6 separate regions of the Homo sapiens genome follow, and all the other regions are reported to be linked to region 1. The links are microRNA targets in miRTarBase. Many come from high-throughput screens and were not tested one by one. Region 1 holds a microRNA gene; each other region holds the end of a gene's coding sequence.

Region 1 (5,000 bases):
ATCAATCTTTGAGTGTAAGATCTTGAAGAGCAAGAATCCTGTTTTTCTTTTTATCCAGCCACACAGGCAGATATTAAAGCTACTTTTTAGGAGATATTGTTGATTTCAGCAGACAGAATTTTTAAGGGAATATAGGCCAAACAGATGCTTGCAATGATGTGGCTTAGTGATATATAGAAAAATCACAAGTGTCTAGACTTCTGTTCACTTCTGTTAAAAGTGGAGAGGCTCTGACCAAATGTAGGACAGAGGTGATTAAGATCCTGGCAGGCTCTCATTGCTTTAATGCCTCTGCAATACCGATGTACTAAGGGGATCCTTTGAAGTTCAGGTAATGTGTCACTACTGAGCAAAGCACGTTAATTACTGAAAATGTAAAACAAAAGCATCAGTAATAACAGCATTCTGTCTCATCACCCCTTTGCTGAGTGCCTCTTTAATAAAAGACAAGCTATGCTTCCTTAACTGGATTTCTACTTAAAAAAAAAAAAAAAAAAAAAAAAAAAAAAGGACTGTCTTAATGGTTACTGCTGGCTATCATCATCTGATAACTAACAGGACTTTGTCAAAAGCTTCCTGATGCAAAATGAGAACTGCCCTGACCTTTTCACTATGCTTCCATAACTACTTAAGATTATGAACAGTACATTCCAAAGGCCATACTCCTTTTACAAACCTCTATCATTTACAAAATAGGAAGGCCTGGACACTGATACTACTACTAAGGAATTCTAGCCTATACTAGATGTCTGAGATGCTACACCCAAGGAAGTCCAATAAGGAATTCTAGTCAATACCAGATGTCTGAGATGCTGCACTCAAGGAAGTCTACAGATCTCTCGTCAAGGAGCAGAGGAAGAATGGAGAAGAGGAAAAGGTCCCCAGGAATTACAGAGCTCATTTCTAAGGGGCTCAAAATTAGCAAAGAGACTTTTGGAGATGTTTTCTGAGCTTTAGGGATCTTATTTCTGCCTCACACTGGTCTCTATTCACCCAGAAGAGATAATGAGGCTCCCAGTAGAGTCACTTATCTGTCTCTATTCTATACAGGATAACAAATGTTCCCAAAAAGCAAAAAAGTCTTACATCATCAAAATCACCATAATAATTCCTGTATCTGAGAATCTCACAGCACTGCTGGGAGTAATTAAAAAGGATATCCTCTGCTCTCCCAAAAAAAGACAATATTTAAGATAGACAACCTTAAGCCCAATCCTCTGTACAAATGCCCCAGGATTCTTGATGTGAGTACTGTAAGGACCCTTCATCTTAATTTTAAATCTCTGAGTGAAGAATTATCATATATAAAAATGTGCTGATGAACATAAAAATCCCTCTCCCATGTTGCCTTTCTGTAGAGATTATCAGGCCTCTTTCTACCTTCCAAGGCTCAGAAGGTAGAATGAGGCCTGACATATCTGCAGGAAAAAAAAGGAGAGAGATTTATGTTTGTAAGAAATTCAAGTAAACAGTGACTTTGAAGCTCCTCCTTGGGATAAAAAAAAATAAGCAGAGTGACCCAAACAAGCAATGATATTAAAACCTAAATCTCTAAGACAATCTGGGGCTGTCAGAACAAGCCAAATAGCTCAGGAGGAAGAGAGGAGGAGGGTGAAAGAGAAGGAGAGAATTATTTACCACTCACCGAGCTGGCACACTCTGCCGTGTGCTTTACCCTTCTTGATCAGTTCACTGAATCCTCACAATAAAATGACCATGTAGTTGCTACTTATGCCCATTTTAGAGACGATGAAGCTGAGGTTCAAAAGGTTAAGTAACATGTGCAAGGATCTATAAAGAATAAGCATCAGGCCGGGCACAGTGGCTCATGCCTGTAATCCCAACACTTTGGGAGGCTGAGGCAGGAGGATCACCTGAGGTCAGGAGTTCGAGACCAGCCTGGCCAACATGGTGAAACCCCATCTCTACTAAAAAATACAAAAATTAGCCAGGCATGGTGGCGCATGCCTGTAATCCCAGCTACTCAGGAGGCTGAGGCACAAAAATCACTTAAACCCAGGAGGCGGAGGCTGCAGTGAGCCGAGATCACGCCACTGTACTCCAGCCTGGGCAACAGAGCAAGACTCCATCTCAAAAAAAAAAAAAAAGAAAGAAAGAAAGAAAAGAAAAACAGTAAGCATCAAGGAGATTCAAGTCCAGAGATGAACCCAGAGCCTTTCTCCTAACCCTGCACCATGATGGCAAAATCCACAGTGTGGCTCAGTGTTCAAGTCACAGCGGTTACATGTAACAAACAGTATTCCATAAATGAAAAATCCAAGAGAATACGGATGATCTGTGAAATGCAGATTCTGACTGCAAAGTCCTAAGAGAAGCCAAAACAACAAGTCCTCAGGAAGAAATTCTGAACTTAATTCTCTTCAGGGGCTTATGCACTTCATTCAACATTTATTCAGGGATTACTACGAACTGGACACTGAGGCCAAGAGGCTCAGCCCTTAATATTTACATTCTGGAGGGAACAGAAGATGGATGAGAGTCCCACCACGCAGCGCCATGACTAAGGTGGGGAAAATGTAATGGGTATAAATGGAGGAGTGAGTTGATTTTGCTTGGCAAAATCATACAAAAGACGTAACAAGGTCAAAGTCAAAGCTGATCTCTGAAGGACACAGAGTTCATCAGGAAGAGAATGAGATCATTTCCAGGGATGTCCAAAGAAGAAATGCAAAGGCCCGCAGCTGTGAGATGCAGCAGGATAAAGGAATCACAAACTATCCCCCCATGGCTCTAACATGGCAAATGGAATTGGGGGATGCCTGCAGCCAGGTCTCATGTCCTGCCAGGGTTAGGTTTGGCTTACTGAAGTTTTATGTAGCCAGTGACACAGTCAGATCAGTGCTGATGAAAGTCACGTGGCTCCAGTGTGATGGACGGATTAAAAAGCCAGCACAGTGCACCGTTCTGCATCTGGCTCCCCTGTGCCTCCCACTTATCACCAATCCAACAACCTCTTAACCACAATTTAAAAATCCAAAAAGCTCTAATAACCGAAAGGTTGCTTTTCTAAGTTGGGAGACATACTTACCTCAAAGTAGAATCTGACTTACAAAGCTGTTTGTATTCTTAATTTTTCTTTTCTTTTTTTTTTTTAAAGACAGAGTCTTGCTCTGTCACCCAGGCTGGAGTGCAGGGGCGTGATCTCGGCTCACCACAACCTCCACCTCCCGGGTTCAAGCAATTCTCCTACCTCAGCCTCCCAAGTAGCTGGTTCTACAGGCACGCACCACCACACCTGCCTAATTTTTGTATTTTTAGTGGAGATGGGGTTTCGCCATGTTGGCCAGGCTGGTCTTAAACTCTTGGCCTCAGGTGATCTGCCTGCCTCGGCCTCCCAAAGTACTGGGATTACAGGCGTGAGCCACTGTGCCTGGCCAAATTTTTCCATTTCTGTGACTAAGCATACTTTATTGTAGAACTAATTACATGTGTGTGGCTCTAGGGTGGTGGAGATATTCCATAAAATACAGTGGATAAACTGTATTGTCTTTCTAAAATTCTGAAACACTTTTGGGCACATGGGATAAGAGATTGTGAACTTGTAGAAATCATTCCATATCAATACATAAAGAGCTTTTACACTTTTTTTTTTTTTTTTTTTTTTTTTTTTTTTTTTTGTGAGACAGAGTCTCGCTCTGTCACCCAGGCTGGAGTGCAATGGCACAATCTTGGCCCACTGCAACCTCTGCCTCCCAGGTTCAACCGATTCTCCTGCCTCAGCCTCCGGAGTAGCTGGGATTATAGGCACCCACCACCACGCCCAGCTAATTTTTTGTATTTTTAGTAAAGACAGCGTTTCGCCACATTGGCCAGGCTGTTCTTGAATTGACTGCAGGTGATCCACCTGCCTCAGCCTCCCAAAGTGCTGGGATTACGGGTGTAAGCCACCACGCCTGGACCTTTCTTTGATTTTCTAACAACTACAAAGAATGCACTTTGTGATTTCTCTTTGATATCCTGGTTATTTAACAGTGTGTTGTTTAATTTCCACATATTTGTGAATTTCCCAAATTCTAGTTTGTGAAGTTCTTGGTCAGTATTTGTTCAAATATTCTTTCTTCTCATTTCTCTCTCTCCTGTCCTTCTGGAATTCCCTTTATAAATATGTTGGCATGCCTGAAGGTGCCCCATGGGTCTCTGAGAGACTTCAGTGATAGTCTATTTGATGAGTCATCATTTTCATACTTTTGTTTCTTTGAAAATGTTTTTCTGGCCAGGTGTGGTGGCTCATGCCTGTAATCCCACCACTTTGGGAGGGCGAGGGGGGCAGATCACTTGAGGTCAGGAGTTCAAGACCATCCTGGCCAACAAGATGAAATCCTGTCTTTTCTAAAAATACAAAAATTAGCCAGGAGTGCCACATGCCTCTAATCCCAGCTGCTCAGGAGGCTGAGGCAGGAGAATTGCTTGAATCGGGGAGGCGGAGGTTGCAGTGAGCTGAGATTGTGCCACTGCACTCTAGCCTGGGTGACAGAGCAAGATTCCATCTCAGAAAAAAAAAAAAAGAAAAGAAAATGCTTTCCTGTAGTTCTTTGAACACATTTAAAATAGCCAATGTCAAATCTTTGTCTAGTAAGTCCAACATCTAGGCTTCCTTGTAGATGGATTCTATTCTGTTTCCTTTCAACTGTATAGGACACATTCTTGTTTCTTTGTATATCTTGTCAGTTTCTTTAAACACTAGACATTTTCTTTTTATTTATTTTTTGCGACAAGGTCTCACTCTGTCCCCCAGGCTGGAGTGCAGTCGCATGATCATGGCTCACTGCAATCTTGAACTCCTGAGCTCAAGCAACCCTCCTGACTCAGCATCCTCAGTAGCTGGGACTACAGGCATGCACCAAAACACTTGGCTAATGTTTTAATTTTTTGTAGAGACAGGGTCTCACTATGTTGCCCAGGCCAGTCTCAAACTCCTGGCCTCAAACAACCCTCCCGTCCCAGCCTCCCGAAGTGCTGGGATGATAGACATGAGCCAC
Region 2 (5,085 bases), not on the chromosome of region 1:
AGTACCCAGCAGGCTGACTCCTAAGCCTGAGCTTTTCCTGCTGCAGGTGGTTCACCCAGAGCTGACTTAAAATAAGCTCATGGTACAGAGGCCAGGCCAGGAGGATGGAGTTAGATGGCCCTTGGTTCAAACTCAGTTGTCATTTATTAGTAGTGTGTCCTTGACTGCTTTCTCCTCTCTGATTCTCCGATCATTTAACCAATAGACGTTTAATGGCCAGGTTGTCTACCACGTGCAAGGCACTCAATTTCATTCTCTGTAAAGATGTGAATAATAAAAGCACCTGTTTCACAGGAGTGTTGAGAATTAATGAGATCATGCTCAAGTGTTTGACAGCGCCCGGCACATGGTAAGGGCTACACAGCAGCACCTATTGTCATTCATAAAGTTCCTCCTATGCGTCAAGGGCTTCACAGACATCTTTAATCCCCATAGTCTAAGAGGTAGGAACTACCATTATCCCTGTTTTCTGAATGAGGAAGCCAAGGCTCAGAGAAGCTTAGGTGACTTGTCTAAGGTCATGCCTGGTATAAGATGGAACCTAAGTTCAAAGCCTGCCCCAAGCCTCCACATGCCCTCTGAGTTTGTCTCTTGAGGAAGGACAACTTTTTTGCCTTTTCGTCAGAGAACCAACCTTTAATCACCCTTCACAACCCAGTTCAAGGGTGTCCGCTTCCGTTTTCCCTGTCCCTCCCTGCCCGACCCAATCGTCCCTCCTGCCACTGCCTTTGTGCCTGCCTTTTTCACAGCAGTAGAGCCTCGGGGTCAAGGGCTGTGGCTCTGCGTTCAGGTAGTTGGGGATTCAAATGCCTCTTACTCCGTGTGTGGCTTCAGGCAAGTCCCATCACCGCTCTAAGCCTCAGTAACTTCTTCCATAGTGGGCTAACCATGGTACCCTTGGGTTGTTAAGGCACAAACGGCCTGGCACAAAGTGAGTGCTCAAATGATGGCAGCTGCTATTACGATTAGTAGTAGCAAGTCCTAGTCCTGGCATTGAGGTTCTCAGTTGCTCAACACGGAGGGTAACTGGCCCTTAATAAACCTCTTGGTCCAGCTGAGACAGGGCAAGAAGGGACTGGGGACATTCCTGTCACACCCGCTTCCTACCCCAGACACATCTTCTTAGCACCTGTTGCAGGAACACCCTGTGGCTCTAGGTGCCCTTTAGGACGCCCCCTCATGGCTGAGAACCTGCTTTGGGAGGAGGGACTGCAGTTCCCAAGCAGGCACCACATGGGGGTGCTTTAAAAGCCTTCTTGCCTTCCATCCTTTTAGATAAGGTCTGGTCTCCATTTCACAGGTTCATCCAAGCACGCACTTGTTGAGGATCTACTATGCGTCAGACACCATGCCACCTGCTCCGGATACAAGAGTGAGGAACAGGCATTTCTGCCCTCATGGAGTTTATAAGCTAGTGGGGGGACCAAGGAAACAAGCACGTTAATAAATAGAGTACATATTAGATGGAGCAGAGAGAAGAAAAATGAAGCAGGTCAAAGGGATGGAGGGTGGTGGGAAGGGGCCAGGGCCTATGGGGCTCTGCAGGTCTTAGAAGTTTCCAGGGGTAATGGAAAGCTCCCAAGGACGTTAAAGGATGGGAGTGGCAGGCTGTGGTTAATGGTGCCAAAGAAGCCCTTTGCCTGGGTGGGGCAAGGGCAGAAGCTGGGGGACTGATGAGATTCTGCAGTCATAGGTGAGTGACTACGGAGGCTGGCCCAGATGATCGTAGGGGAGGGGTGACCAGGGGCACCCAGAGGATTGCTGATGGACTGGACATGGCATGAGATGAGGCCACCGAAACAGAGAGGCACAGTCACAGTGCAGGAGCTCAGACTGGGACCTGGGTCAGATGCTACAAGTCAAAAAGTGTTTTCTACTCTGCTTCCCTGTCCTGGCCTGGGAAGAGTGTGGCCTGGAAGAGGGGGACTGGGATCCCCAGCCACACACCCTCAACACAGGAGCCCAACGCCCATTTAAAGAAGGAAGGCCTTTTATTTGGGCCTGGGAATCAGGAGTTGGCAGTTCTCTCTGAAATGCTGGGAGTTAGGAGACAGGGAGCAGCAGGGAACCCTTATTTCTGTACCAGCTGCTTCCCCTGAATGAGCTCTAAGTCATCTTTAAGCTCCTGGCAGGGAAGGGCATGCTTTGTCCTATGGATGGGTATGAAAAGGGCCGCTGCCCCTCTGGAAGACACTTTGGAACGCCATTAAAGCCATGCCTAGCTCTTGACCACATGCCTGCTTCTTCCCTGGCCTTCTACTGAGGAAGCAGCCGGATCTGTGCAAGACTCTACCTACAGGGTTGCTGGGCATGATTGTTAACAAGATCAAACAACCCACATCCCACAGCAAAGACTAGTTAAAACTGCACTTTTAGAAAGGGCATCATGACAATTACTTTGCCTATTTTTCATTTTGATGAGTTTTGGGTATCTATCAAGGCATATCCAATGAACTGACATGCATCCTTGTCCTGGCCCATTTAATGCCAGGAGGTTCTCTTACCAACCAGTTTTTGGGGAGATCCAAAATGCCCCAGTTGAGAACTGAATTCAGAAGCCCCGGAACCAGTGGCTGAGTATCCTTTTTCTTCTAAACCTGTGAAAACCTATCTGGGTGGATGGGCCTTTCCATCTGGACTGCCCAAAACAGAAAACTAGGGCTGGGAACATCCTTCCCCAGCCTGGAACCAGACCAGTGTGATCCCTGGTCCAAGGTCAGAGGGACTGTCTCTCAACTGTGGTGGCTGCATCAACAATATAGGTAAGAGTTAGATCACCTGCCTCGCTTACTTCCCAGAGGTGCTGGGGGCCCTGTGCAAACTACCGTAGATGATACAGGTTTTAAGTGGGTGTTTTTACAATCTCTTCTGCAATATACTAATTAATTAAGCAGACACTGTGAGAAGGAGGTAGGGGGAGGTCAAGTGTATGTATATGGGCCTGGCAGTTAGGGATGGAGTGTATACTGCACTCCATGGTGGCTGAACGTGGGCTCTGGATGGGAAGAGGCAGTACCTTACCACTTACTAGCAGTGTGACTGGGGCTCAAGGTTTTGCACTGTAAAGTGGGACCTTTGTGAAGCACTTAAGTACTTCTGCTGGCTGCTGTAGTTTCCGTCAAAGCAACCCATTAGAAAGTACAAAACTCCATTGTCCTCATTCTGGTTTTTAATGGTCAAGGTGACAACAGTGTACAGTTTTTCCAGACCCATATGTAGGTTCCATAATCTCCACCTGCTGGAGAAAACACCGTGACAGATGCCATTGCCCCAGCAGGCCACTGCCGGTGTGGGAACTTTGGGATCAAAAGCACCAAGCCAAGTCCCTTGCTCAGGATGGGTCTTGGTTGAAACCACAAGCCCTTCTGCAGTTCTAGGTGGATGTAGTGTTGGTTCTTGGCTCATTGCAGGGGTGAAGCAGGAAAGAGAAAGAGACTGGTGAGGCCTGCTTGGAAAGAGGATTGAGGCACATTACGATTCCAAACCAGGAGATCCTGAGTCAGCACTGATTCTGTCTCTGGTTTGTTTAATACGGGAAAGGGTTCCATCCAAGAGCCCAATAGGCCTCCTCTCCCAAACCTGCATAGCAATCAAACTTATAGGGGTGGTGGAGGGTCTTTACCAGGCTAGGACTACTGCCTATGTTTCTGCAAGTCACAAGTCAGCAGGTCAAAGAACAAGTGTGAAGCAGAACCTGCTAAGCAAAGCCAAGTAGTGACACTCACTTCCAAAACATACCCAGCAGAAGCCTCCTGCAAGTACCAACAGTGACAGGTGCTTGTAGCACAGAAAACTCACCCCTTCTTCAACAGTTGATTTGATTTGCCACACATCACTAGTGAACAGCTCGGTGGCATTTTGACTGTTTATCTTATAGGGCAAGATACCCTGATTCTGAACTCACTTAGGATGGGTTGGCATGAGCTGTATCCTAGTGAAAAAAAATATCCCACCTACCTCCTAGGTCCACTCAAGACTTCTGCACGTGGAGTAAATCAAGCCATAATGGAGCCCCTGAGAATCCCCAGGAGGCGAGCAGTCTGGATGGTAATGGAGGAAAGGGCCAGGCAGGCAGGTGGAACAGAATCTCAACTGGCCAAGACCTGGCAAGATTAGATACCCCAGGGGTTGAGTAAAAGGAGCACAGGGAAATATTTATTTTCACCTTCTGAAGACACTGTGTGCATGGAGCTCTGACTTCCCACTTCAGGGAACTCTGGCTGCCGCCCAGTTTTATCTGGGCAAGTGACATATTCTCGTGGGAACAAGTGGTGGCGAAGCCTCTTTCTACACATTTCCCCTCCTTCCTCCAGTCATCTGTGGGGCTGGCGGGTGGGACACACTAGTGAATAAGCATTGTGTGCCACAAGTTTTTATGCAGAGAAGATGGAAGGAAGTTTCCTCCCACAGGCCCCAAGATAAATATAATTTTAAAGCAATTAAAGCCTGCTTCAGTGGGAGAGTTTCCGTACAACATGCTGGTGATATTCCTTCAATTTTTTTGGTTGTTTTTATTTTTTTTTTCATTAAAGTCCATTGATCATCACAAAAACCCAGGAAATGCAACTAAGGAGAAAACAAACGTCCAACCAAGATCTAAGAACCCAGAGCTATGGAGGAGACGTTGCACTGGACTGCTGGGTGTGCACAAGGGGGCAGGAGGGGCGATCCCCATGGGGCATGGCCACTGGCCATGGGAAACACAGGAGGGAGGCCAGGCAGCTGGCTGGGCGGTTATGTTAACCGCTGCACGATGACAGCATTGAGCAGGTTGGCTTCCTTCAGGGTCTGGCTCTCATCAGCCAGCTCTTTGTTCGGGAAAGTAGTCATGAGGATAAAGCTGGTGGCAGCCATGGCTGGCCGGGCATCCACGATGAAGAGTCGGATGTCGCTGATCCTGCAGGAGTTGGGGAAGCGGTGAGCAGTGCCATCCTCTGCTGTCCATACCCCTGCCCTGTGGAAAGCTAAACACCTCGCAAATCCCCTTTCCTGACTTTCTCCACAGAACAGCGAAAGCTACGCTCAGGCATGTGGGACCAAGTCCCTTCCTTGCCAAGAGTCCTTCACTGTTGTTTCCATTTTCCT
Region 3 (5,085 bases), not on the chromosome of region 1:
GGGTCCTTCCCAGTGACCCCTCAGCCTTCACTTCCTCCTCACTCCCGGGGAGCTGTGACAGGTGTTTGGGGGAGGGGAGGGGGGTATGATAAGCTGGGACAGCTGCACCCACCGGTGCTCTGGTGAGATGGGGGGCCCGGATGTTGGGGAGACACATCTGCTGGGTTCCCAGCCCAAGGTCCCCAACCCTGGCTGTCTGGCCTTGTCTGTCACCCCCCGTGCCCACTGGCAGGGACAGGAAGCTCCCCCCCCCACCCCGCTTTGGGCAGTTTGCCTTGGCACGGGCCTGATCTGTTTTCCTCCCCAGAGCAGCTGCTGTTCTGTCTGCTGGGCAGAGGGCTGGGTTCCTCCGAGGTAGGCAGGGGCCTCAACCCAGAGCCCCTCTCACACCCTCTCTCCAACTCAGGCTTATGTCTCTCCCTCCTCCCCCACCCCCACCCCAGGAAGAGGAGATCCCAGAACTGGAGATTGACGTGGATGAGCTCCTGGACATGGAGAGTGACGATGCCCGGGCTGCCAGGGTCAAGGTGAGGGGGCTGGGGGGCGATGGGTTGCCTGAGGCACTGCCCCGGGAAAGTGAGGCTGTGGAGCCAGGCCCTCAAGCCCCAGCTCCTGCCTCAACAGAATGGGGCCAATGCCTAGCTGTGAGGTTGTTGTGGCATCTCCTGTGCCTCAGGGTGGCCCCAGTCTCTTGGAAGTGGGTATAGGCGAGCTCCAGGCCCCCACTCCTGAGGACTCACTTATCCTTCCTCCCCCATCCTCTGCTAGGAGCTGCTGGTTGACTGTTACAAACCCACAGAGGTAAGAGATTTCCTGGGGGGCTGGCGGGGGTGGCAGGGTGAGGGGAGCCCGGCTCCTGTCATCTTGGGGTCTGGTCTCCTTAATGTTTACCCTCCCACCCCATCCAGGCCTTCATTTCTGGCCTGCTGGACAAGATCCGGGGCATGCAGAAGCTGAGCACACCCCAGAAGAAGTGACGGTCCCCGACCCAGGAGAACGGTGGCTCCCACAGGACAATCGCTGCCCCCCAACCTCGTAGCAACAGCAATACCGGGGGACCCTGCGGCCAGGCCTGGTGCCATGAGCAGGGCTCCTCGTGCCCCTGGCCCAGGGGTCTCTTCCCCTGCCCCCTCAGTTTTCCACTTTTGGGGTTTTTTATTGTTATTAAACTGATGGGACTTTTTGTGTTTTTATATTGACTCTGCGGCGCGGGCCCTTTAATAAAGCTAGGATACGCCTTTGGTGCAGCTAACAGGCTCGGCTGGTCTCTTTTAGGGGGGCACACTGCTCTTTGACTTCTGCCAGCTCAGCTTCTCCCCAGGTGACCACAGGCCTTCCTAAGGGCCACGTAGCCATGACGATAGCCCAGTGCTGGCTCCCAGACCAGGAGTTGAAAGTGGCTGGGGAGCTGTGGGGGTGGGGGGAGCAGTATTGCTGTTGGCAGGCAGGAACACTCCTTTCTCTCTGGGCAAGGGCCACCATGTCATTGAGCCTAGACCCCCAAGGCTCCACAGTCGGGAAAGGAGAAGGTGGTGGGGTATGCTGGAGCTGAGGTCTCTGAGTCTCTCAGGGCCCACAAACACACACAGGCTTACTCCTTGGGCTTTTAAGTGTTTTTTTGTTTGTTTTTGTTTTTTGTTTTTTTTTTGGAACAGTCTGGTCCCTGATGGGGGCCTCTCCCCCTGCCCCTCCCCAGTCTGGTTACAGCTCAGTTCGTCGCTCTATTTTGAGCAGCTCCACCTCGAACACCAGGGTTGCACCACCTGTAGGGGAGAAGGGGAGTCAAAATGCCAACCAGGGCCACAGGGAGGTGGGCTGGCTGCAGGTGATGGGAGGTATCAAAAGGTTTACTACCTGGAATCTTTGGGGGAGCTCCCCGCTCTCCATACCCTGTTGAAGATGCACAAAGAAACAGTCAGTGATGGCCAAGCTCCCTTCCAGTGTGGGCAAAGGGAGAGTGTTCCGCCCCTCTCAGCAAGAAGGCCAGAAATGGAGAAGGGTAATGGAGATGGGAAGGGGGTGCCAAAGGCCTGGCAAGGGCAGAGTGGGGCCACTACAGCTGAGTGCTTCAATGATCTTGCCCTGTACTCACTGCTAGACACAGCCAAACTTGGAGGAGGCATGTATTGTAATGAATGGATACGGTGAAGACCAATGAAAAGCTGAAGCAGCTTTCACCCTTCCCAGTCACACACCCCAAACTCGCTCTGCACCCTCAGGAGGGGCCTCTTACCTAGCTCGGATGGGATCACCAGCTTGCGCTTTTCCCCCTCACACATCCTGCAGGAAGACACATGCTCAGCCCATGGCAGCACCCAGGGCCCTTGTCTTGTATCCCTGGGGCTTGCCTCCCACAGCTTACCTCCTGGGCGGTGGCCATGCACGCCCCCACTCCCAAGCCCATTCCCCCATGACTCACCCCAGCAGCCCCTGGTCCCAGCCCTTGATGACCTGGCCTGTGCCAAGGGAGAAGACAAAGGGCTGGTTCTGGGGCAGGCTGCTGTCAAACTCTGTCCCATCTTCCAGCTTCCCCTGTGGAACCATGAGAAGGCCAGTGAGGAAGAGGGGACCACCCCTGACACCCCCTCCCTCAGCTGCTTTCCCCATCAAGCTGCCCCCCCACGCCCACCCACAGCCCTGGTGGTCAGTCCTTTTTGTTTTTTGAGATGGAGTCTCTGTTGCCATGGCTGGAGTGCAGCGGCGTGATCTCGCCTCCCTGCAGCCTCTGCCTCCCGGGTTCAAGCAATTCTTCCACCTCAGCCTCCCAAGTAGCTGGGATTATAGGCGCCCGCCACCACGCCTGGCTAATTTTGTATTTTTAGCAGAGAAAGTTTCATCATGAGGCCAAACTGGTCTCAAATTCCTGACCTCAGGTGATCCACCCGCCTCGGCCTCCCAAAGTGCTGGGATTACAGGGGTGAGCCACTGCGCCCAGCTGGTCATAGTTCTTTAAGAGGACAGAGCCTTGGGCAGCTCACAGTACACTGTCACTGCCTGCTGGTGCCCACCTGGGCAGTAGGCAAGGGCAAGGCAGAACCATGGAAACTGGCTTAGAGGCGAGAGGGGACTTGCCCAAGGTCACCTACCTGGCTTATGGAGAACCAGACTCCCAAGCACTCTCTGGTCCTCGGAAGCCCCACCCACTCCCAAAAGGCCCGCCCAACCCACTCACCGTGTAGTGCATGTGCAGGACATCCCCTTTGCGCGATTTGATGGGACAGTGGTCCACCCGCTTCTTGACCCCGATCTGCAGCTTCCTTTTGCCCTCGGCCCCCGTGGCCGTGGCCACGGCGCTCAGGCAGATGGACAGTACTGTCAGGACCCGGAACCAGCTCAGCCTCATGTCTCTGTGGGCACAGACCCCGACCGACCGACTGAACGTGGGGGAGGGCAGGGAGAGTATGGAACACGGGTAGGTAACAGGAGGGTTCCACCGCCACTGTATCTTCCTTGCCCCGGGGGATCCCCTTTGTCCCGGGTCACCGCCCTCTCCCCCGGGCTCCGGGGCCACACTTACCAGTCCAGTGAGAAGGGGGCTTGGCCGAGGACCCCAGCAGCGGGGGGAGGGGGTCAGGGGAGGCCACAGCAGCCAGGGACCCGCCCCTTTGCTCACCCCCATACCTTCCCTCCCTCCCAGTCCCCACCTCCGCTCTTCAGTTCCCGCCTGTCCCTTTACGCAAAGTCCAGACCCTATCTGGCTGCACTGCAGTTGCCCCGACTGGGCGGCCCCACTCACGCCACACCCAGCTGCCCCCGGTCCAGCACACCAACACCTCTGCGGCCGCTGCAGGGGGCCGGCCCCGAGGCACCCACACATCCCCACTGGGTGGCTCCGAGGAGCCCGGGTCCTCGGGAGATACCCCCCAGCCTGGCCCTGTGCTTCCGCCCGGGGCGCCGCCCCAACTCTGAGCCCTTGGGGGTCTCCGGGGCACCCAGACTGGCCCTGTGTCTGCTGGCCGCCGAGCCCGCTCCACCCACACCACCTCTCCCGGTGGAGTTCTCGGCCTACGGCGTCCCCAAGCCCGGCCACCACGGAGACCACCCCCGCGAGGACGCCCGGGGCCATTACTCGGGCCAGGCTCCTCACTTGGCTCCTTGGCACCGCCCTTCGGAGGACGCGGTACCGCCCCCGGGCCTGCAGCCCCGCCTTCGACAGAACTAGACCCCTTTTCCGGAGCCGTAGCCACGCCACTCACCGGCTGAAGCCCCGCCCCCAGCGCCTCCGCTCCGTCCCCCTCTGCTTCCGACCCCGAGGCTCCGCCTTTCACCTCCTCCAGCTCCTCCTTCAAGAGCCAGGCTCCGTCCCCCGACCCTCCTAGCTCCGCCCCCCGCCGCCGGGCTCCGCCTTCCACTGGCACCAGCTCGGAGGTCCCACCCGTCCCGGTTCCACGTCCCGCCCCGAGTCCCAGGACTCCGCCCCGTGCGGCGTGAGAACCCTCCCCCTGCGGCATCTCCGGACAGCTCCGGCCCCCACCCCCAATTTCCTCGTCACCTAGCTCTCGTTGACACTCGGAGCCCGGTCCGCTTCTGCCCGGCCTGATCCAGCCTGCCCTCTTGCACCCCGGCTCCCCCCAGCCCGGGCTGTGGCCCCCGCTCACCTCCTCGCCGCGCCCCCGGAGTCAACCCCGGTGGTGCTGCCGCCTCTGCGCAGGCGCGTCCTCGTCGCTACCAGGCCGGGCCACGCCGCCCTCCCTTATTGGACCGTGCGAAACCCGCGGCCACACGCCCGCTGGCACGGGTCTTTCCCGAGCCCCGCCCCCGCGACGCCGCTGCCCTGCGTCACTTCCGGCGGAGCGGTAGTCTGTAAGGTTAGGTGAAAGTGACTTCCGAAAAGGCCGGAGACACTTCCGGCCGAGGTGATAGTAAGGTCAGGCGGGCGTGGGTTCCCGGAGGGGGTCTTGAGGCGCCATTTCAAGTCGCCCCCAGCCTCTCCCACAGCACTCCTGTTTTCCCGGGCCTCATCATGGCCCACGGCCCTCAGTCGCTGTGGAGCCTGGGCTTCACAGTGACACTCACGTTTGAACTCCCGGTCGGCTGTGTGCTTGGTAGAATTTGTCATCCAATACAGGCGTGTAACACGGGCTT
Region 4 (5,085 bases), not on the chromosome of region 1:
AAAGGGAATACTGTGTGTGACTCCAACAGAACTTGTTCTCCACTTACCAGTCTAAGATTCCAGGAAATAACAAAATACTGCACATCCAGTAGGTTGATGTATATATCATTAAGTATTTTTTCTATGTATAATTTTTTTGTAATTTTCAAAAATGAGATCTCACTATAACCAATTTCTTTCACATAACAGAATACAGTGTCTATCTTTCCGCATCATTAAATTTTCTTCCATCATCTCAGTATAAATGGCATGCCACATTTCATTGTATGAATGTTCAATAATATCAATAGCTTATTCAATAAGTCCCCTGTGGCACTTTTTTTTTTTTTTTTTTGAGACAGAGTCTTGATCTGTCACCCAGGCTGGAGTGCAGTGGCACCATCTTGGCTCACTACAACCTTTGCCTCCTAGGTTCAAGTGATTCTTGTGCCTCAGCCTCCCGAGTAGCTGGGACTACAGGTGCATGCCACCACCCTGGCTAATTTTTGTATTTTTAGTAGAAATGGGGTTTCACTATATTGGCCAGGCTGGTCTCGAACTCCTGGGCTCAAGTGATCTGCCTGCCTTGGCCTCTCAAAGTGCTGGGATTACAGGCTCGAGCCACCATGCCCGGCCCCCTGTGGCACCTTTATAATATCAGAAACATTGCTATGGGTAGGTAGAATCTGAATGATCAAAAGGAGGATAGATAGGTTGGTGGAGAGAGAAAGTTCAGAGTGGTGAGACAGTCTGGCACCATCTCCTGACAGGCATTGAAGATATCCGGCCTGGAGACCAGGACGCAGGTTACCGGATAGTGGGGCTGAGGCTGGCCCTGAGAACATCTAGATCTAGGAGGCTTCTTAGAGGTCATCTTGCTTTGCAACCCTCCAGGAGTTCGACTTCACTGTATAGCATCCCTGGCAGGGCTGACCAGCCCCAGCTCCTGTATTTTAGAGCTCGCTGCTGTGCAATGCTATCCGTGTCATTGCTGCAAAGCTCTGTCTGTTAGAAGGTCAAGTTCTCTGGGTAATGGGATTCGAAGTATTTTCTTTTTATCTGTGCTTTCTAAATTTTATGAAATTAGCATGATTCAACATTTATTGGCTTTTACGAAAGTATTTTTTAATTCTATTCATCAAAGCCACCTTCTTCTCTGTTTACTCTGCCTACACTTATCTTTCCTGTCTCTAAATCTCATTGTTAATTTCTGTATAATCCAGTACATGTCTATATAGTGTCTTGTGTTATTAAAAGTTTGTTTCACTCATGTTGGTCTCAGCTCTCCAATGAAGAACATTTTCCTCTGGCCAAATTGTGACTTATTTTCTCATTTTCCCTGACACATAGCACTGTGCAGGAATTGGCCACTTGATGATGGCTTGGTACTGGATTCTCCAGGTGTCACATGAACTACCTGGCTCTCCACAGAGGCTCTGGACCTGGGGATGCCCCCAAACACCCACAGTTCTCCTGGGTCTGCTGAGCCCCTTGGAAATGACCCAGGTATCCAGTCACTGGCATTGCTAATGTTCAACCTGTCACATTATTCTGCCTCTATCTCCCCTTTGACCTCTAGTGACTGGGCCAAGAGACCTGCAGAACCTAGTGTCCTGTCCAGATTCCAAACTAAATGTCCTCCAGTAGCTACAGCACAACTGGAGGCTGGAAGATCACTTTTGTATTCTTTTCTCATTATTTGTGAACAGCATTAGAGCTGAGGTGGTCTCTAGCCGCTACCAATCTTTAAGAAATTACCCCGCAATCCATTCTTGAAAAATAAGCCTTATTGCCATTGTGCCTACTGTGTGTCAGATACCATGCCAGACAGCTCTGTAAAGCCGACCGCAGAGACTAGGTCCTGACAGCCATCCCTTTGCTCTCTTGCTCAGTCCATATGGGAGGCAGCTACTCAATTACATTTTTACTAGCAAACCCTCTGAAATGACCTTTACAATGATATCATCACACTCTTTTTACTCAGCAACCACCGCTTAGCACTATTAATCTCTCCTCTCCACGCTAAATCAGAGGGGCAGCATAGCCTACTTAAATAAAGCTTAGGAGACCCTGCTGGTTTCTCGACAGTTTTTTTTCAAGTGCATTCAGACATGATTCTCCATAGATATTGAAGGGCTGTCAGATGGGAGGAGGACGAGATCTACTCTGTGACCGAATCCTATTGCTTCTACAACCCTAACATGGCTCCCGGCTCCATGCCACAGTCCTGCTTCAGACCACCATGCACTTGCCTGGATTACCACAGCAGCCTCCTAACCAGTTGGCCTGCCTGTCCAGTCTTGCTCCTCTAATCCTTTCTCCAGAGAGCCTAAGTGATCTGTTTAAATTGTAAATCTGATCACACCACACCTCTGCTTAAAACTCCGTAATGCTTTTGCATGGCCTTCAGGATAAATCTAAACTCCATAGCATCGCTTTGAAGACCCAGTGTCTGCTTGGCTCTCAGGCTGCATGTCTTGCCCAGATTGTTTCAGTCCTACCAAACCACTTGCACACCAAATCCCAAATACTTTTTAATTCTCTTACCTCCAGGTCTTTGCCTAGAACATAACCCCTCCCCTCTTCACCAAGTTAGCTCATTTGCCTTCCAGGTGTCACCTCAGATGTTACTTCCTCCAAATGTCTACCCTGGTCACCCAAGGCTACGCTGGGTATCCTTCTGTCTTCTGAGTATCCTAGGTTTATTCTATCTTCTCTCCTGTCATTTTGTTTTGTAATTGCCTGTTTCCATGTATCTTCCTCTCCAGACAGTAAGCTCCTTGAGGGCTGGGATTGTTTTTATCTATCATTGTATTTCCAACACCAGTGCTTGCCACAGAGACACTCAATAGTTAATGAATGAATGACAGATGACCTAACAAGGATAGGTGGAAGACTCAGAGGGGTACATTTCTATGTACTGAAGAACTTGCTAATAACTGGTGATATATAAAAAAAAAAAAAAAAAAAAAAAAAAAAAAAAGGAACACACTGACCCACCAAGCACAGGGAAAGCCCCATCTCTGAAAAGTCTCCAAGCAGAGCCTAACTGGTCATCAGGCAGGGAGCTTCCTCAGTAGATGGCAGTAGATGTGAGATGCCCTCCACTCATTTCCCATCTGTAGGAAGCCACGCTTAGATTCATTCGTGAGGTCAAAACACTTGGGCTGGGGTCCCACTTCTGCACTGACTGTGAGACTTTGGACTAGTCACAGCCTCTGAGCTTTCTTGCTTGTGAAATACAAATGACACCTGCACTGCCTACTTCAGAGATTTTGTGAGGTTCAAATGAGATCACACATGCTCAAGTACTCTGTGAAAGCCTTAAAATAAAATGAAATGTATTATTTACCATGTAATCTTCAGGACTTGCAGCTTCACTGAATAATTTGAGTTTCACAACTAAAATGGAAAACCAAGTGCCACACTGTAAAGCACTGCTGCAGGCAGAGCTGCGAATTAGAGCAGAGATCTGCCCCTTCTGTGCTGCGCTACCGCCCTAGGGAAGACAGTGGGGATCTGGAGCATCTGATTGGTTGGGATCTGTCAAGGGCTTGTTGTTCTAGCCATCAGGGAGATTGCTTGGGGCCTACCACTAATGTCTTAAATTGTCATGAAAATCAGCAGAAAACTACAGACATACTCAATAAACCTTTCCTTTGGGTCCCTTGATTTATGCTTAAAGGAAAGTCAAGAACAGTTAACAGCATTTCACTTCCCCTTTAGCAAGACAAACCCAATGAAACCATTTAATTTAAAGGCTTTTTATTAGGAACCAGGGGAATGAGCTGCTTATCCCTCTATAACAGTCTAGAGCAGGTCATCAGGCCCAGGATGGAGAGAGGTTATCAAAGGTGCTGTGGTGTGCTTTGCTGCACGTGCTTAGGGCCTGGAAGGAAAGGTGGTGGCAACAGAGGTTGGCAGGAACTGGTGTTAGTCAAAACACCAAAATCCTGGGGGAGAGCCCCTCTACCTTCCTTCTAACTCCACTTGAGGTGGGAGCATTCCAGGAGACAGAGAATGTGACCAGGATGCAGCAGTGTCATCTGAACCCCTGGCTTCGTTCAGTGCTACTTCACTTGCCAGCCCTCCACTCTTCTTGCCTTTTAGTGATTAGGTATTTGAAGAACTCATACACAGACCATGCGATGGCTGTGGAGGGGATCTGGTAAATTACTCTGGCCTGCACCCCTCGGAAATAGGCGGTCACCCCACCTACTTGATATACCGTCCTGAAGGCACTAGCCATGCCTGTGATATGTCCTGTAATGTGTGAGTTCAAAGCCAAGGACTCCTGGGTGTTGAGCAGTGTTTTGCAAACGTCCAGTGGGGTTGTGGCTGCGGCAGCTACAGCTCCTGCGCAAGCTCCAGAGAGGACGTGGGAGCTTGGGTTGTACCGTCTCTGGGGGTTAAAGTGCTCCTGCAGGAATTCATAGGTCATGAAGTGAATGGCTTGGAAAGGAACGTTCATGGTCAGCTGGGTGGTGTAGCTGCGGTAAAAGGCCCCGGCCCCTTCATTTTGCCACACTGCCCGTACACAGTCTGTCACCCGGTGGTATGGTGAGTTGTACATCTGCATCCTCTGCTTGACCACTAGTAGTGCCATCAACGAGGAAGGAAATGGTGACAGCAGCCAACCGGTGATGGAGAGTATCCAGATTCAGAGCCCCAAGTCAGCAGATCAGCCAATGGAATAGAGAGAGAAAAAAGTATGAGTGAGCTGCTGGCTAACCTGAGAAGTCAGCTTCCCTTTTTTGAGGGGAAGGAGTAAGCAGAGGGTTGGTAACGAGTCAAAAAACAATAAACCCACTTCCATCAGGACTTCTGTAAAGCCAGCCAGTTCGCACACAGGACATATCTACAGTTTGGGAGCTTCAGAGAGTCTTCTTGAACTAAGTACCTATCTCTGATCTTACCCTCTAACAATTCCCAACAAGAAATGACTCCATGATAGTGATCATCACGAACACAGGCCCCTAACAATCCCAATCCTCGCATACAAAGAGCACCTAACTTTTAAAATGTGAGATGGTGATCCTCCTAGAGGGGAGGAGACAGAAGTTCTACCAAAGAAAAGATTCTTAGCCAAAAAGAGTTGGCTTTAGT
Region 5 (5,085 bases), not on the chromosome of region 1:
AGCAGATACAGAACTCTTCCCACTTACTTTCTTACCCTTGTGTGTGTCTCCCCACAGGGTTACAAGTGTATAACAAGTGTTGGAAGTTTGAGCATTGCAATTTCAACGACGTCACAACCCGCTTGAGGGAAAATGAGCTAACGTACTACTGCTGCAAGAAGGACCTGTGTAACTTTAACGAACAGCTTGAAAATGGTGGGACATCCTTATCAGAGAAAACAGTTCTTCTGCTGGTGACTCCATTTCTGGCAGCAGCCTGGAGCCTTCATCCCTAAGTCAACACCAGGAGAGCTTCTCCCAAACTCCCCGTTCCTGCGTAGTCCGCTTTCTCTTGCTGCCACATTCTAAAGGCTTGATATTTTCCAAATGGATCCTGTTGGGAAAGAATAAAATTAGCTTGAGCAACCTGGCTAAGATAGAGGGGCTCTGGGAGACTTTGAAGACCAGTCCTGTTTGCAGGGAAGCCCCACTTGAAGGAAGAAGTCTAAGAGTGAAGTAGGTGTGACTTGAACTAGATTGCATGCTTCCTCCTTTGCTCTTGGGAAGACCAGCTTTGCAGTGACAGCTTGAGTGGGTTCTCTGCAGCCCTCAGATTATTTTTCCTCTGGCTCCTTGGATGTAGTCAGTTAGCATCATTAGTACATCTTTGGAGGGTGGGGCAGGAGTATATGAGCATCCTCTCTCACATGGAACGCTTTCATAAACTTCAGGGATCCCGTGTTGCCATGGAGGCATGCCAAATGTTCCATATGTGGGTGTCAGTCAGGGACAACAAGATCCTTAATGCAGAGCTAGAGGACTTCTGGCAGGGAAGTGGGGAAGTGTTCCAGATAGCAGGGCATGAAAACTTAGAGAGGTACAAGTGGCTGAAAATCGAGTTTTTCCTCTGTCTTTAAATTTTATATGGGCTTTGTTATCTTCCACTGGAAAAGTGTAATAGCATACATCAATGGTGTGTTAAAGCTATTTCCTTGCCTTTTTTTTATTGGAATGGTAGGATATCTTGGCTTTGCCACACACAGTTACAGAGTGAACACTCTACTACATGTGACTGGCAGTATTAAGTGTGCTTATTTTAAATGTTACTGGTAGAAAGGCAGTTCAGGTATGTGTGTATATAGTATGAATGCAGTGGGGACACCCTTTGTGGTTACAGTTTGAGACTTCCAAAGGTCATCCTTAATAACAACAGATCTGCAGGGGTATGTTTTACCATCTGCATCCAGCCTCCTGCTAACTCCTAGCTGACTCAGCATAGATTGTATAAAATACCTTTGTAACGGCTCTTAGCACACTCACAGATGTTTGAGGCTTTCAGAAGCTCTTCTAAAAAATGATACACACCTTTCACAAGGGCAAACTTTTTCCTTTTCCCTGTGTATTCTAGTGAATGAATCTCAAGATTCAGTAGACCTAATGACATTTGTATTTTATGATCTTGGCTGTATTTAATGGCATAGGCTGACTTTTGCAGATGGAGGAATTTCTTGATTAATGTTGAAAAAAAACCCTTGATTATACTCTGTTGGACAAACCGAGTGCAATGAATGATGCTTTTCTGAAAATGAAATATAACAAGTGGGTGAATGTGGTTATGGCCGAAAAGGATATGCAGTATGCTTAATGGTAGCAACTGAAAGAAGACATCCTGAGCAGTGCCAGCTTTCTTCTGTTGATGCCGTTCCCTGAACATAGGAAAATAGAAACTTGCTTATCAAAACTTAGCATTACCTTGGTGCTCTGTGTTCTCTGTTAGCTCAGTGTCTTTCCTTACATCAATAGGTTTTTTTTTTTTTTTTTGGCCTGAGGAAGTACTGACCATGCCCACAGCCACCGGCTGAGCAAAGAAGCTCATTTCATGTGAGTTCTAAGGAATGAGAAACAATTTTGATGAATTTAAGCAGAAAATGAATTTCTGGGAACTTTTTTGGGGGCGGGGGGGTGGGGAATTCAGCCACACTCCAGAAAGCCAGGAGTCGACAGTTTTGGAAGCCTCTCTCAGGATTGAGATTCTAGGATGAGATTGGCTTACTGCTATCTTGTGTCATGTACCCACTTTTTGGCCAGACTACACTGGGAAGAAGGTAGTCCTCTAAAGCAAAATCTGAGTGCCACTAAATGGGGAGATGGGGCTGTTAAGCTGTCCAAATCAACAAGGGTCATATAAATGGCCTTAAACTTTGGGGTTGCTTTCTGCAAAAAGTTGCTGTGACTCATGCCATAGACAAGGTTGAGTGCCTGGACCCAAAGGCAATACTGTAATGTAAAGACATTTATAGTACTAGGCAAACAGCACCCCAGGTACTCCAGGCCCTCCTGGCTGGAGAGGGCTGTGGCAATAGAAAATTAGTGCCAACTGCAGTGAGTCAGCCTAGGTTAAATAGAGAGTGTAAGAGTGCTGGACAGGAACCTCCACCCTCATGTCACATTTCTTCAATGTGACCCTTCTGGCCCCTCTCCTCCTGACAGCGGAACAATGACTGCCCCGATAGGTGAGGCTGGAGGAAGAATCAGTCCTGTCCTTGGCAAGCTCTTCACTATGACAGTAAAGGCTCTCTGCCTGCTGCCAAGGCCTGTGACTTTCTAACCTGGCCTCACGCTGGGTAAGCTTAAGGTAGAGGTGCAGGATTAGCAAGCCCACCTGGCTACCAGGCCGACAGCTACATCCTCCAACTGACCCTGATCAACGAAGAGGGATTCATGTGTCTGTCTCAGTTGGTTCCAAATGAAACCAGGGAGCAGGGGAGTTAGGAATCGAACACCAGTCATGCCTACTGGCTCTCTGCTCGAGAGCCAATACCCTGTGCCCTCCACTCATCTGGATTTACAGGAACTGTCATAGTGTTCAGTATTGGGTGGTGATAAGCCCATTGGATTGTCCCCTTGGGGGGATGAGCTAGGGGTGCAAGGAACACCTGATGAGTAGATAAGTGGAGCTCATGGTATTTCCTGAAAGATGCTAATCTATTTGCCAAACTTGGTCTTGAATGTACTGGGGGCTTCAAGGTATGGGTATATTTTTCTTGTGTCCTTGCAGTTAGCCCCCATGTCTTATGTGTGTCCTGAAAAAATAAGAGCCTGCCCAAGACTTTGGGCCTCTTGACAGAATTAACCACTTTTATACATCTGAGTTCTCTTGGTAAGTTCTTTAGCAGTGTTCAAAGTCTACTAGCTCGCATTAGTTTCTGTTGCTGCCAACAGATCTGAACTAATGCTAACAGATCCCCCTGAGGGATTCTTGATGGGCTGAGCAGCTGGCTGGAGCTAGTACTGACTGACATTCATTGTGATGAGGGCAGCTTTCTGGTACAGGATTCTAAGCTCTATGTTTTATATACATTTTCATCTGTACTTGCACCTCACTTTACACAAGAGGAAACTATGCAAAGTTAGCTGGATCGCTCAAGGTCACTTAGGTAAGTTGGCAAGTCCATGCTTCCCACTCAGCTCCTCAGGTCAGCAAGTCTACTTCTCTGCCTATTTTGTATACTCTCTTTAATATGTGCCTAGCTTTGGAAAGTCTAGAATGGGTCCCTGGTGCCTTTTTACTTTGAAGAAATCAGTTTCTGCCTCTTTTTGGAAAAGAAAACAAAGTGCAATTGTTTTTTACTGGAAAGTTACCCAATAGCATGAGGTGAACAGGACGTAGTTAGGCCTTCCTGTAAACAGAAAATCATATCAAAACACTATCTTCCCATCTGTTTCTCAATGCCTGCTACTTCTTGTAGATATTTCATTTCAGGAGAGCAGCAGTTAAACCCGTGGATTTTGTAGTTAGGAACCTGGGTTCAAACCCTCTTCCACTAATTGGCTATGTCTCTGGACAAGTTTTTTTTTTTTTTTTTTTTTAAACCCTTTCTGAACTTTCACTTTCTATGTCTACCTCAAAGAATTGTTGTGAGGCTTGAGATAATGCATTTGTAAAGGGTCTGCCAGATAGGAAGATGCTAGTTATGGATTTACAAGGTTGTTAAGGCTGTAAGAGTCTAAAACCTACAGTGAATCACAATGCATTTACCCCCACTGACTTGGACATAAGTGAAAACTAGCCAGAAGTCTCTTTTTCAAATTACTTACAGGTTATTCAATATAAAATTTTTGTAATGGATAATCTTATTTATCTAAACTAAAGCTTCCTGTTTATACACACTCCTGTTATTCTGGGATAAGATAAATGACCACAGTACCTTAATTTCTAGGTGGGTGCCTGTGATGGTTCATTGTAGGTAAGGACATTTTCTCTTTTTCAGCAGCTGTGTAGGTCCAGAGCCTCTGGGAGAGGAGGGGGGTAGCATGCACCCAGCAGGGGACTGAACTGGGAAACTCAAGGTTCTTTTTACTGTGGGGTAGTGAGCTGCCTTTCTGTGATCGGTTTCCCTAGGGATGTTGCTGTTCCCCTCCTTGCTATTCGCAGCTACATACAACGTGGCCAACCCCAGTAGGCTGATCCTATATATGATCAGTGCTGGTGCTGACTCTCAATAGCCCCACCCAAGCTGGCTATAGGTTTACAGATACATTAATTAGGCAACCTAAAATATTGATGCTGGTGTTGGTGTGACATAATGCTATGGCCAGAACTGAAACTTAGAGTTATAATTCATGTATTAGGGTTCTCCAGAGGGACAGAATTAGTAGGATATATGTATATATGAAAGGGAGGTTATTAGGGAGAACTGGCTCCCACAGTTAGAAGGCGAAGTCGCACAATAGGCCGTCTGCAAGCTGGGTTAGAGAGAAGCCAGTAGTGGCTCAGCCTGAGTTCAAAAACCTCAAAACTGGGGAAGCTGACAGTGCAGCCAGCCTTCAGTCTGTGGCCAAAGGCCCAAGAGCCCCTGGCAACCAACCCACTGGTGCAAGTCCTAGATTCCAAAGGCTGAAGAACCTGGAGTCTGATGTCCAAGAGCAGGAAGAGTGGAAGAAAGCCAGAAGACTCAGCAAACAAGGTAGACAGTGTCTACCACCATAGTGGCCATACCAAAGAGGCTACCGATTCCTTCCTGCTACCTGGATCCCTGAAGTTGCCCTGGTCTCTGCACCTTCTAAACCTAGTTCTTAAGAGCTTTCCATTACATGAGCTGTCTC
Region 6 (5,085 bases), not on the chromosome of region 1:
GCACAGGTGAGCAGGAGGGACCCGGCCTCGTTAAATGGGGAGTGACCAGAGGTGGAAGGGGCAGGACCAGAACCTTCGCAAAAGAAAGAGCTAGACCTAGAGCTCTGGTCCTGGCTTGGCGAAGAATGGGAGAGGTCAAAGGTGGGAGCGAGGCCGCTGACTGGTGAGTAGAGCCCCACCAGAGCAGATGAGCTGGAAGTGCAGCAGAGTTAGAGCCTGGGCTGGACTGTCGGTGGGGTAGAGTCTAAGTTGTTTCCGGTCTGAGCCTTCAAGTTGCTGGGCTGTCCTTGGCGTGGCGAGTCCCAGGAGAACCAGTGAGACAAGACTGGTGGTTCTCAAAGACTCATATGTCCCTTACAGGCGCCTGCCCCCGCAACCGATTCGACCACTCCCTAGATTTGGTGAGACTAATTCCACCCCATTTTCTTTCTCCTACATGCCCACTCCCCACCCCTCAATTCCTGAGTCTGAGCCCTTGCTGGGAGCAGACACGTTGGTCACCTTCTCTCCATCCTTCAGCTCTGTCCCCCCCACATAGCTCCACTTGTGAAAACCGAGCCCCAGAGGCCAGTAAAGGAGGAAGAGCCCAAGATTCCAGGGGACCTGGACCAGGAACCGGTAAGGGCATGGGGATGGGAAGGGGATAGCCAGAATCTCTGAGGAAAATGGACCAAAAAAAAAAAGGCCTGAACCCCAAGGAAGACTGTGGAGACCATCTTGTCTTCCTCCCCTTCCTCCTCCAGAGCCTGCTCTATGCGGATCTGGACCATCTAGCCCTCAGCAGGCCCCGCCGGCTGTCCACAGCGGACCCTGCTGATGCCTCCACCATCTATGCAGTTGTAGTTTGAAGGGAAGCCCTTACTCCAAACCTCCCAAGCTAGGGGATCCCAGCTCCCCATAATCCCTCTCCCCTCCTTGGTTCCTCACCTGGAAGAGGAAGGCACCATGGTATAGAAATAAGTGCTAGACTGGGAGTTGGGAGACCTGGGTTCCAGGCTGTCTCTGCCACTGGTCTTACTTCTAAACTTACTCCCATCTCTCCTATAACCTCCATGTCTCCCTCACCACCAGTGTCCTCTCTATACCCAATCAAGCCCTAGCTCCTTTTTTTTTTTTTTTTGAGACGGAGTCTCGCTCTGTTGCCCAGGCTGGAGTGCAGTGACACCATCTCCCTCACTGCAAGCTCCGCCTGCCGGGTTCACACCATTCTCCTGCCTCAGGCTCCTGAGTAGCTGGGACTACAGGCGCCCGCCACCACGCCCAGCTAATTTTTTGTATTTTTAGTAGAGACGGGGTTTCACTGTGTTAGCCAGGATGGTCTTGATCTGCTAACCTCGTGATCCACCCGCCCCGGCCTCCCAAAGTGCTAGGATTACAGGTGTGAGCCACCGCGCCCGGCCTGATTCTTTAAGCTGTTTTTCTTTGTTGCTGGTGTTTTCTTTTTGGACTCCTCTTCCTTGCTCCATATCCCTACAGTATTTCCCACCATTCTAGGTTTGTCCCTTTCTCTTCTTCTGGGACACTCTCATCAACAGTCAGTCCTCAGCCCCCTCCTCTGCAAATGACACTCAGAACTCTCTCTGGCTCAGATCTCAGATTTGGGATTAACAAACTTCCACTTAGACATTCTGCCTGACTGACCTCAGGCATTTCGCACTCTGAATGTCAAACCCAACTCATTGTCATCTCTGAAGCTGCTCACTTAATTCTCCTCTGTATTCTCTTTAACAACCCAGTTGCCCAACCCAGAAACTGGGAGTCACGCAGACCTCCTTTCTCTCTTACTCCCACACAATGAGCCATGAAGTCCAGTCTTTCTATCTTAACATCACTGTCAAACCCACACTGTATTCCATGCCCAGCGCTGCCACGTGAATGTACTCTGCTCACTTCCTTCCTGGATTACCCATAGCCCCACCTCATCCTCCTACCCTTGCTTTCCTCCCTGAAGTCAGAGAGATCCTACTCAAGAGATAACTGCTCCTGACAGCCCTTATTACAGAACTGAAGTACTCTCCTTAGCTTCAGCTCTGTGCCCACGTGCCTTGGCTTTGGATACAAGGTACTACAGCACTTTGTCCACTCTCCAGGCTTACCTGTGTCATTCCACATGCACATCTTAGAAAATGCCAGCCTTAGAGAATTCTCCCTAGCCCCAAAATGTCTTTGCCCAGTGCAATTCCTTCTTCCTGTATTACCCCTTTCCCTCCTTCACACTATCTGCCTGGCTAATTCTTATTTATCCTTAGTTCAAGTATGGCCTTTTCTGGGAAGGTGACCCTCCTTGGCCACCCCTTGCATATACTTTGATGCCCTAGGGCGCACCCCCTTTATTTCCCTCATAGAAACAGCCTTCTGTAAATTGTTCCATGACAACCTGTATTTCAATTTGTAAGAAATTTGCATGTACTGTGAGCTCCCCAACGTCAGGAGACTGACCCTTTTGATATCATTGCTAAGCCTCATTAAATGAATGAATGAAAATGAATGTCCCTGGAAGTGTCATTTCTTTTTCTTTATCAAATAGGGGTGGACTGGTAATCTACCAGTCTCTGAATCATCTAACATTTAGATAAATTCAGTGAGCAATCCACCCATACACTCTTTTCTCTGCCCTGGACACACTTCCCATGATAGAAATTCTGTCTTGTTCATCTTGTGCTCAAGTACCTATGACATGGTTGGGCAATGAGTTGATAAGTACCTAACAAGATTTTTGAATAAGAGGCCTTCTTCCCTGCACTGACCCCAAACTCAGGTTTCAGCCCTGCCCTATCCCTTTGCCCCAGTAAGACACCAGTCACAGCCCAGTCTAAAAGGTCAATTCTATTTTATTGGTTCTGAGAGGGAGGATTCACCCAGTGGATCCTTTTCCCTACACTCTCCCCTCCCCCAATATTGAGGCTCTCTCCCAACTACTGCCTATTCAGCATTCTCTATCTAACCCTCCTTCCCCTTCTACTTCCTATACTATCCTACCCCTGGCCAGCAGTACCCCAAGGCCAGGCCCTCAGCTGTGGGGGCGTGTGCTGAGCACCAAGCAGAGGGAGCTGAGCCCGGCGCCAGCCTTCTCCAGTTCTGAGCAGGACACAGGTACCAGGGTGACATCAGAGAGCTTCTGCAGTGCCTGCACAGGGAAGACATGGAGTGGGGAGAGGGGAGTGAGACCTCAGGCTGAGCCAGGCCACTCTTCCAGCCAGCTCAGAGTGGCCCCACCCAGGCTTCTAGAGAAGGTACCCTTCCTTCCTCCCACTAGGAAAGCCTGAAACTCTTTTCTCTGATGGTGCTTGGTGTTGGAGTTCCTGCCCTCTCTCACCTCCTGGCTGTTGGGCAGATCCCCACCTCCACGGTGCAGGAGGAAAGGGGGCACACCAGGCAACCCAGGACGAAGAAAGAGACAGTCAGCAGCTGCGTCATCTGGGAGGGTCAGGGAGGCATATGGGTGATCTGTCAGCACTGCCATTGCCTAGAGGAAAGAGGAAGTGTTCGAGTCTCAGAACCTCTCCACAGCTGTGTCTGCCTGCTCAACCACCACTAAGGGCTGGGGACGGACTGACATTTGTGGAAAATAATGACAGCAAGCACATAGAGCTTACGATATGTCAGACACTAAGTACTTTAGTTACCTTTGCTAATTTCCACCTTGGAATCACATGCAGTTATTTTCAACCCCCTACCTTCCCCAGCCCCTCCTATCTGTCCTACCCATCCTTAGAGTCACAGTTTAGGTGCCACCTTTGGGGTTTCCTGAAACTCCGGAAGAGCAAATTAATCACCCCTGTTCCCAGTCCTGCTGTTGTAACTTCTTATTTTCTCCTGTGTTCTTTCATGTAAGATGGACAGCCCATTGAGGGCAGGGGTTAGGGCTAATTTCCTAAGCCTCCCAGCTCCCGGCCTCCCGGGCCCAGAACTGCGCCCACTTTCGTTGGCCCCGCCCCCTCCTCACCCGGACAGCCTTTTGGGCAGCGTCGCTGCTGCCTGCCACAACAGTGCGAGGTCCCCCCATGCCGCAGAGACCGCGCAGGTGGGAGGGACCCGAGACTGGCACAGTGGAGACGGCGAAGTCCTAGGGAGAGCGAAGGGAGGTATTCAGGGGCGCGGGAGGGGTGATGGGGTATCTTCAAACATAGGCTGCTCTCTGCCTCTCATTTCCTCAGCGGGCGCCCAGGCCCTTCCGACCCCCACCTGCACCCCCTCCCTCCCTAGGCTGGTCCCGCTCCGCACCCGGAACGTGTCCGCCACGATCTCAGCTCCTCGGTGATTGGTCCATTTGGAGAGGCCTACGAAAAACTCCCGGCCTGAGTCCGGGAGGCCGCGGAGGTTTGAGGGCGGGAGTGAGTTAGAAACAAGGCTCCAGACGGCCGAGTCTCCCAAACTCTACTTCCCTGTGCCAAGACCTATGCCTCCCCCCAGCCTCACCGGTGAAGAGAACGTCAGTGCCATCCAGCGTCGCGTTCTCGTCTCCTATTTCCACAATTCGGAGCCCCAGGTCTTGCAGGGCTTTGCGGACTCCATCGACCTTAGGATAGGAGAAGAGGGCACGGAGCTGTGACACCCCCATCCTCAATTCTTCCCCAAAGCCCCGACATCCAGTTCCTTCTGCCTTTCCCCATACCACACCCGCGCCACGGCGCTCACCTCTGGCCTACGAGCGGGGCTCCAGGGCCGCGTGATTAGGGCCGTGTCCCCTTGGATCACGGCCGTGTCGCCAAGCAGCGGTCCCAGCGGCAATGACTCCTCAGGTGGCAGTTCTAGCAGCTGTAGCCCCAGTCGTTGCCTCAGTTTACCTCCCAGCACCCCGTGCTCCCTTTGAGCTTTGGCCAGATCCAGAGCGGGAAGGCCAGCCCCCGCACCTTCCCCCGACGCCAGGCTCTCTGGGACTCCCCGGATCAGGGCATGGGAGCAGCGGCCCAGCCCCTCCCCCGGCGTCCCCATCCCATCCACACAGACTCCCCCTCCAACCGCTCGGATTTCTTAGTTTTCTTGTTTCTTCACCTGTCTGGGAGAAGAAACAGAAAAGGAGGAGACAGAGAAAAAGACATGCAGACAAGGGCGTTGGGGGTGGTTAAGAGCGCCCAGGTCTTC

The links. The annotated mature microRNA hsa-miR-4650-5p reads UCAGGCCUCUUUCUACCUU and lies in region 1 at 1,365-1,383, shown strand. An mRNA with a match to its seed (bases 2 to 7 or 8) in the 3' UTR can be bound and repressed. Matches are read on the target gene's strand: a 7mer-m8 pairs with bases 2 to 8, a 7mer-A1 pairs with bases 2 to 7 and ends in A, and an 8mer does both.
Region 2: miRTarBase lists NSFL1C as a target of hsa-miR-4650-5p. The part of its 3' UTR that is shown has no 7-base or 8-base seed match.
Region 3: the mRNA of PPP1R14B is a reported target of hsa-miR-4650-5p. Seed matches in the 3' UTR shown: 7mer-m8 at 1,069-1,075.
Region 4: miRTarBase lists SLC25A28 as a target of hsa-miR-4650-5p. Seed matches in the 3' UTR shown: 7mer-A1 at 3,803-3,809.
Region 5: miRTarBase lists CD59 as a target of hsa-miR-4650-5p. Seed matches in the 3' UTR shown: 7mer-A1 at 1,801-1,807 and 7mer-m8 at 2,570-2,576.
Region 6: miRTarBase lists MPIG6B as a target of hsa-miR-4650-5p. Seed matches in the 3' UTR shown: 7mer-A1 at 1,397-1,403.

Annotation. Positions count from the first base shown.
Region 1 is chr7:72,696,553-72,701,552 of GRCh38, forward strand. MIR4650-2 (microRNA 4650-2) reads left to right here and starts at 1,351; the gene lies at 1,351-1,426. The region is part of intron 10 of TYW1B (tRNA-yW synthesizing protein 1 homolog B); the gene reads right to left.
Region 2 is chr20:1,439,015-1,444,099 of GRCh38, forward strand. NSFL1C (NSFL1 cofactor) reads right to left here. Exons shown (of 9, transcript NM_016143.5): 9 at 3,152-4,897. The coding sequence ends at 4,735. Among named protein-coding and RNA genes, the nearest start is that of NSFL1C, 25 kb to the right of the region's middle.
Region 3 is chr11:64,240,646-64,245,730 of GRCh38, reverse strand. PPP1R14B (protein phosphatase 1 regulatory inhibitor subunit 14B) reads left to right here. Exons shown (of 4, transcript NM_138689.3): 2 at 444-527; 3 at 769-801; 4 at 909-1,252. The coding sequence ends at 977. FKBP2 (FKBP prolyl isomerase 2) reads right to left here and starts at 4,636. Exons shown (of 6, transcript NM_004470.4): 1 at 4,599-4,636; 2 at 3,173-3,347; 3 at 2,420-2,532; 4 at 2,234-2,280; 5 at 1,855-1,890; 6 at 1,599-1,763. The coding sequence starts at 3,343. The coding sequence ends at 1,702. It overlaps LOC114841035, which reads right to left and starts at 4,636. Exons shown (of 6, transcript NM_001370414.1): 1 at 3,518-4,636; 2 at 3,173-3,347; 3 at 2,420-2,532; 4 at 2,234-2,280; 5 at 1,855-1,890; 6 at 1,599-1,763. The coding sequence starts at 4,451. The coding sequence ends at 3,654. RefSeq lists enhancers at 2,023-2,923, 3,826-4,726, 5,008-5,085, 4,727-5,085 and silencers at 3,438-3,677, 3,708-4,727.
Region 4 is chr10:99,606,795-99,611,879 of GRCh38, forward strand. It overlaps SLC25A28 (solute carrier family 25 member 28), which reads right to left. Exons shown (of 4, transcript NM_031212.4): 4 at 3,728-4,572. The coding sequence ends at 4,055. Among named protein-coding and RNA genes, the nearest start is that of SLC25A28, 11 kb to the right of the region's middle.
Region 5 is chr11:33,705,316-33,710,400 of GRCh38, reverse strand. CD59 (CD59 molecule (CD59 blood group)) reads left to right here. Exons shown (of 4, transcript NM_000611.6): 4 at 58-5,085. The coding sequence ends at 275. It also overlaps a transcript of C11orf91 not described here. Among named protein-coding and RNA genes, the nearest start is that of C11orf91, 7.0 kb to the right of the region's middle.
Region 6 is chr6:31,724,227-31,729,311 of GRCh38, forward strand. It overlaps MPIG6B (megakaryocyte and platelet inhibitory receptor G6b), which reads left to right. Exons shown (of 6, transcript NM_138272.3): 3 at 1-6; 4 at 361-401; 5 at 539-618; 6 at 744-2,488. The coding sequence ends at 848. DDAH2 (DDAH family member 2, ADMA-independent) reads right to left here and starts at 5,073. Exons shown (of 6, transcript NM_001303007.2): 1 at 4,639-5,073; 2 at 4,420-4,519; 3 at 4,225-4,298; 4 at 3,947-4,066; 5 at 3,317-3,466; 6 at 2,814-3,127. The coding sequence starts at 4,935. The coding sequence ends at 3,011.